2 linked regions of the Homo sapiens genome follow. The protein of the gene in region 1 interacts with the protein of each later gene in a biochemical or structural test. Each region holds a gene or a part of one and is shown on either strand. Other genes may lie near its edges.

Region 1 (3,500 bases):
GGAGGAGGAAGAGGAGGAGGAGGAAGAGGAGGAGGAGGAAGAGGAAGAGGAGGAGGAGGACGAGGAGTTGTTGTTAGTGTTGTCCTTCTGGCCGGGACACACCCTGAGGCCATGGTCAGGGCAGAGGAGGAGGAGGACTGGAAAGTGGGGTCGAGGGCAGGGTGAGGCCTCACAGCTCTGGGGGGCAGTGTGGGGGTCGGTCCATCCGATGTCCCTCCCGCAGCAGCGAGAACAGCTCCTCCACCGGGATGCCAGGATACGGGGAGCCCCCGAGGGTGAAGATCTCCCATAGCAGGATCCCAAAAGACCACCTGGAGGTAGGGCCAGGGCTCAGTGTGGCTCAGCGCCCTCCCGACGACCGGGGCTAGGACGGGGGACCCCACAGACATGACCCACCACAGCTGTTGGGGAATGGGCTCCTCCTGGAGTCTGGGCCCACTCGGGTCCCAGACCAAATCTGAAGGAGCCCTCGAGCGCATGACTCCTGGGGCCACGTGACTTTGGGCAGTGCCTTGCCCTTTTTGTGGGGTAGGACAGTGACCGCCGGCAGGACTCACACGTCACTCTGGTGTGTGTACACCCGGTCAAACAAGGCCTCGGGCGCCATCCACTTCACAGGCAGGCGGCCCTGGAGGGGAGAGAGGGCCTCAGTGCAGAGTCCCACAGGTCCTCGTGCCTGCCACCCCGGGCCCAGTGCCCCTCCACCCCCATCCAGTTCTGCCCCATCTCCCTCACGTTGCTGGTTTTCTTATAGTAGTCAATGTGGTGGACGCCGCGGGCCAGCCCAAAGTCAGCAATCTTCATCACATTGTCCTCAGTCACCAGCACATTGCGGGCAGCCAGGTCCCGGTGGATACACTGCAGGGAGCGGGGGCTTGGGTGCCTCAGGACACCTGGCCTGGAGTTGAGCACACACCACCCCCCAGCAGGCCCGGGGGCAGGGGCCCTCCACCCACTTTACAGAGGAGGAGGTCAAGGTTTAGAAACGGGGAGTGCCTTCTCCTGCGTCCCCTCTCCCCTCTGGGGAAGGGTGAGGAACGAGTGGGGAATGCAGGAAAGCGTGAATGCCTGGGGACACTGAGGTGGGGTCATGAAAAAGAGCAGAGAGGGAGAAGTCGGGACATTGAATGCCACAGGCCTGAGAGTGGAGCTGGAGAGACTGAGAGGGGCTCAGAGCCCTAGCGCCTGTACCTTCCGGGACTCCAGATACTGCATGCCTCGGGCCACCTGGTAGGCGCAGGAGACCAGGACTGGGAAGGAGAGCGGCCCCTCACTGCTCCGAGGACCGTCGGGGCTGAGGTCGGGGCCTGGGGGGCGCCGGGCCCGCAGGAACTCCCGCAGGTTTCCCTTGGCGGCGCACTCCACGATCACGTACAGGGGCCCTGCAGAGGGAGTGGAGGGAGCGTGGAGAGGCTGCCAAAGCTTTGGCTCTGCACCCTAACGGCCCGTGCAGCCAGCCCCGCCTCGGCCCCACCTTCCTGGGTGCAGACACCAAGCAGGTTGATGATGTTCTTGTGTCGGCCGATCAGCTTCATCACCTCCATCTCCGAGACCAGGTCGGCCAGGTCCTTGTCAGAGGCGTTGTCTGTAAGGGCAGCAGACGGGGTGAAGAGGCTGCCCTCCAACTGCACGAGGGAGCATGCAGAGGCAGGTGCAGGACAAGCAGCACTGGACCAGGGCTACGTAGGTCTAGGGCTGAATCCTTGCTAGGCTGTGTGGCCTTGAAAAAGTCTCCTAGCGTCTCTGAACCTCAGGTTCGTCTTGTGGGAAACAGAGCAGTGGGTCACACCCTGCCTGTCACAGCAGTTGCAAGGATGCAACTGTATCAAGGATCTAAGAGGCAGGCCTTCCAGCGGGCAGGCCCAGGACACAGGAGAGAGGGGAAGAGCTCGGAGCAGGAAGGAAGGAAGGAAGCTGCCGCTGGAGGGGTCAGCGGTAGTCCCCGCATGGGGTCAGAGCTTCTGGGTGCGGAAAGCAGGCTGGCGCCCTGGGGTCTGTTTGACCAGGGCCTGGCTTCCAACTGGCCTGGGAATTCAGGGAGCTGGCGGCAGGCCGGGTGCAGCCGGGGAGCTTGGGAAGAAGGCTGCTTTGGCTTCTCTGGCTGAGCCCCTGGGGCTGACCTGTGGCCCTGGGCCAATGACACAATGTGCATTTCTCAATCCCTGCCTCCCAGGGAGCACCAGGTGGCCCCAGCTGTGTAGAGAGGAGGGGAGGAGCAGAAGAGCAGTGGAGGCCATTCTTGCAGAGGGGGCTGGGGAACTGCAAGGAGAGGCCCTGATGGGTGGGGTGCAGGAGTGCCCAGCAAGAGCACCCCGGGGCTGGGCCTGGGTGCAAGCAGAAGGGCTGTCCTCCTACAGCAGTGGACGTGGGGGGCAGACCTAGGGAGGGTCCAAGGGAGGCTGAGGGTGTGTCTGGGGGGAACCATAAGGAAGGAGGTAGAGGGCCTGTGAGGCTGACAAGGAGATGTGAAGTCAAAGCTGACACAGACTAATGCTGACACAGGATATCAAGCCTGTCACACCAAATTCTTCTCATCATCATCACCCCAGTGGTGAAGATTTATTGAGCCCTGACTATGAGCCAGGCACTTTCCACAATCCTTGGGCTGGGAGTAGGGACTGTTATCTACCCCATATGACACAAGGGAAAACTGAGGCTCAGAAGTCACTTGCCAGGGTCAGGAGCAGAGGTGAATTGCAGGTTTAAGGGTGGGATCCCACAGCCTCTCCCAGCTCCAGGGCTCACCTGGTGGCACCGTGAGCCCCTTCTATTAGTCCCAATGCCATAGCACCTCCTCCAGGCTGCCACGTTCACCTTTTATTTTTATTTATTTATTTATTTTTTCAGATAGGGTCTCACTGTGTTGCCCAGGCTGGAATACAGTGGCGTGATCATGGCTCCCTGCAACCTCCAACTCCTGGATTCAAGGGATCCTCCTGCCTCAGCCTCCCTAGTAACTGAGACTAAAGGCACACACCACCACACCCAACTAATTTTCTTATTTTTTTTTTGTAGAGATGAAGTCTTGCCATGTTGCCCAGGCTGGCCTCGAATTCCTGGATTCAAGCGATCCTCCCACCCTCAGCCTCCTAAAGTGCTGGCGTTACAGGTGTGAGCCACCACACCGGGCCACACTCACCTTTGAGCATCTTGACGGCCACAGTGCTGGCTTGGTCAGGCCGGGCAGGGTCCATGCCAAAGGCCTCTGCACGTACTACCTGGCCAAAGCAGCCCTCGCCTAGGGGCTTCCCAAGCACCAGCCTGGAGATGGAGAAAGTCCAGCCTCAGACCTCCGAGTCACTCCTGCGGAGGGCGGGCTGCAACCCGGCGCCCGCGTCCCTGCCCCCACACAGCTCAGCGCACCTGTCCCGGGGGAACTCCCATAGTGGGTCGAGAGGTAGATCTAGACTCACGAGGCCGGCGAGCAAGGCGGGGCCGCTGGAGGAGAGACGCACGCCTCGTACCAGGGATGAGCTTGACTTGCCGGAAGAGCCTGACTC
Region 2 (3,500 bases), on another chromosome or scaffold:
TGAAAACTGAATTTTAAGATGCATTTGGGCAGTGGTTCTCATCTGTTACACCTAAGATGAATAATGTTCACATATTCTCAAAGGCATTTGCAATTTTGATAAAGCAATACAATAGGTTATAGCCAGCATAAACTTTAGCAGTAGATCACAGAAAGATGAACTGTGGATTGTGTGCAATTCCCGGGACATGGGACTAACTAGAACCCTTTTTTGCATACTCAAGGAAGCATATTTGAATGCAAGGGAGAGTGACCTTATGACAGGAACAACCTAGACCTGATTCTTTTTACAGAGGAAATCATTTTCAAATAGATTACTTACAACTAAGCCATAATGGCTGTAAGAGAACCAGCTAAAGAAAAGACTCTTCGGGCAAAAAATGGTCTTCTAAAGTAACTAACTGGCCCTTTAGTTATCTTGTGAATAAAGCTGGACTTTGATTTACACTATTGGGTCTTCTTAACAAGCAGAGCTCAGGCCCCATGCTCTGATCGTGCCTCCCAAAGCACACCTTTAGATTCTGCTTCATGGTGGATCACAGCAAGGGGCTTAGTGAACGTCTTCTTATTCTGCATCATGGCCCAGATTATCGAGGCGTCCAGCGAGGTGCAGGCTTCGTCAGGAGGCACACACTGCAGACAGGCAGAACAAAGCACAGAATCAGGGGCCACTCAAAAGTGCCTTCACCAGCTCTACCTGCACAGCTGTCCTGTGGCCTTTTATCAGACAGCACACAGCTGTTCACTACAGAAAAGCAAGAAGGTGGGTGTTTTTCAGAGAACACCAAATAACCTGGGAGATATGACAGCAGGCCCAGTGGATTTTTGGTTGTACCTGAAGATGCAAATATCACTGGATAGCTTCTCAATATTGTCCTCCCCCTCCCCTTCTTCTCACAAAACTAAACATTTTAGTGTTAGTTTGAAAAACAGAAAAACTATATGCCTAGTGTTGGTCCTCACCAAGCTGGGCTTCATATACACGGTTCATGTTTGTGATTGGTGATTGTGGGAAATTTCCCATAAAGACGCTCCTCAACTTATGATGAGGTTACATCTTGACAAACCCACTGTAAACTGAAAATATCACTAAGTTGAAAATGTGTTTAATACACCTAAAGTACCGAACAACACAGCTTAGTCCAGCCTACTTTAAACATGCTCAGAACACTTACGTTAACCTACAGCTGGAAAAATCATGTAACACAAAGCTTATTTCATAACAAAGTGTTGAATAGCTCACATAATTTATTGAATACTTAGATTGAAAAACAGAATGGTTGTATGGGGACTGTCTATACTGCATTATGAAGGTGACAGATTTTACATTTTTCTCCAATAAGATAATCATGTTGCTGAGTTTGTTTCATTTTTAATCCTGGTATAGGCTCATGTAAAACTAAACTTTCCAGGGTCATCTGCTTTTAATGTTTCAAAATGCAGATCCTGGGGGCTGTGCCCAGGTTGTGGAGGCCATGAGATTAGCCGCTTCAAACCTATTAATGAGCATGCTCAGGCCCACTACATCTGTTTTGAAAAAATATGATCACACTCCGCACTTTTTCTTTAAAATAACTTTGTTTTCTTGTCTATATTTATCAATAGGTATAGTTCTTTTTTATTTTTCTTGAGACAGGGTCTTGCTGTGTTACCCAGGCTGGAGTACAGTGGTACAATCATGGCTCACTGCAGCCTTGGCCTCATGGGCTCAAGTCATACTCCTGCCTCAGCCTCCCCAGTAGCTGGGACTACAGGTGTGCACCACTACACCCAGCTAATATATATATAGTAGTGACAGGGGTCTCACTATGCTGACCAGGCTGGTCTCGAACTCCCAGCAAGCTGCCAAGCTCAGCCTCCCAAAGTGCTAGGATGACAGGCATGAGCCCACGCCCAGCCTAATAGGTATAACTCTAAAGTAAATGACAGCTTCTATGGTAAGAAGACATATTAATACAGCCATCATTTTAAGTCTATAGCAGGCATCCCAAAAAGCTAATCAAGTTCCATCTTTTCCAAACACAAAAGAGCAAAGACTTTAGGCCTTGCTGTCATTGCTGCTCTGAGCAACATGCCAGTCAGACACTTCTTATAAGACAACCCTCACTGCCCTACTCTTACCCCCTCAAAAAGAGAAAAGCCTTTAACAAGAGCCCTCTTGTAAAGAAAAACAACAAATTTTCTGTGGAGAGGCATGATGACTGAAAAGAGTTGCATTTTGCTTTCCTGTTTTAGTTTACTGTTACTTTCCTATTGAGCTCTTCAGTTAAGCAAGAGTCTATGATTCCGCATTTAACTCAGTGGAGTGTGACCCTGGGCAAGACACTCTGCTCTCCGGGTCTCGGTTTCATCAGCAAAGGGCAGGGTTGGTCTCAACAATCTCTGAGATCTCTTCCTAGAAGATTCTTTGGCGCTCTCTATTGTCACAGAAAGCACTCAGAAAATAATAGAAATGTGAAAATATTACCTATAAGCAGCAAACAGAAAGACAGTGGTAACAGCTCATCCAAGCCTCTGCCAGATAAAGGGCTGTCATTGTACATACTGTCCTATTTGCTCCTCTACCCAGGAGGGAAGCCAGGTATGATTATAACAGTATATGAGGAAATACAGGCTCTAAGGGGTCCAGAGACTGGCTTAAAGTCCCATTGGTGGCAGCAGAGCTTCCTTCTCAGTCCCAGGCTCTTTCCATGTTATCTTACCTTGGGGGTAAAGGGCGACTTGAGGTTTAGGGTTATATCCCATCATGTCATCCCCTGAGGCTTAGAACTCTCTTTACGATTAATTTTCCCAGATTAACACACATGAAGCTGGGCTGTTCCAGGCCAGGTCAGAGAGAAGTAACAGCCAAAGCCACAGCAAAGATCCCTGGTAACTGCTAGGTCTCCCCTCCAAGACCTCTAACCCTTAAACGTTACCCTTCTGCCCACAGGAAGCAGCTGGTCCCACAGCCACACATGAAGCTCCTCATGGCTCTCTACCACTGTCCACTAAGCCCCAACCCTGATGGTGAATGCCTACAAGGCTAAGGCATCACCGCCGCAAAAGCAAACCTAGGAATATAGTCTAAATCACTGTATATGTGCTCCCCAATGATTATGATCATATCTGCTCTATTTTCGTATGCAAACAAAATTCTCTTGGGTGTTATCAGAGAAAAGGATGCCCAGGGGACTATAATGATGCAAGGAATTCAGATCAATTGTAATCTATTTGGAAATGGTGGTTTTTCCTCCTACCTCCATACCTAAGACTTAAAATCTGTGAGTTAAATGAGAAAATTCCATACATACATTATTAATAACACTGCTTGATTCTTAGCCTTTTAGACATTGATATATGACTGCGAAAGGACTGGAAATCAGTTTACTCTGTGTGAGATAGCCACAGAATAAATGCACATATGAAATTATACATAATTATGGCAGATCACAGAAACAAAACTATGGCAGAAGATACCTTTCATATACAAGACCAACCTAGTGGGTATCATAGTTAACC

The links. Proteins that work in one complex are often made in the same cells at the same time.
Region 2: the proteins of FGFR4 (region 1) and TGFBR3 form a complex in vitro, tested with the Homo sapiens proteins (one large-scale study listed by IntAct).

What each region holds. Positions count from the first base shown.
Region 1 is NC_000005.10:177,093,415-177,096,914, reverse strand, and holds part of FGFR4 (fibroblast growth factor receptor 4 isoform 1 precursor), read right to left. Parts: coding exon 3,364-3,500; intron 3,262-3,363; coding exon 3,140-3,261; intron 1,586-3,139; coding exon 1,475-1,585; intron 1,383-1,474; coding exon 1,192-1,382; intron 859-1,191; coding exon 736-858; intron 629-735; coding exon 558-628; intron 312-557; coding exon 174-311; intron 1-173. UniProt on the Homo sapiens protein: Tyrosine-protein kinase that acts as a cell-surface receptor for fibroblast growth factors and plays a role in the regulation of cell proliferation, differentiation and migration, and in regulation of lipid metabolism, bile acid biosynthesis, glucose uptake, vitamin D metabolism and phosphate homeostasis.
Region 2 is NC_000001.11:91,708,152-91,711,651, forward strand, and holds part of TGFBR3 (transforming growth factor beta receptor type 3 isoform a precursor), read right to left. Parts: intron 633-3,500; coding exon 512-632; intron 1-511. UniProt on the Homo sapiens protein: Cell surface receptor that regulates diverse cellular processes including cell proliferation, differentiation, migration, and apoptosis.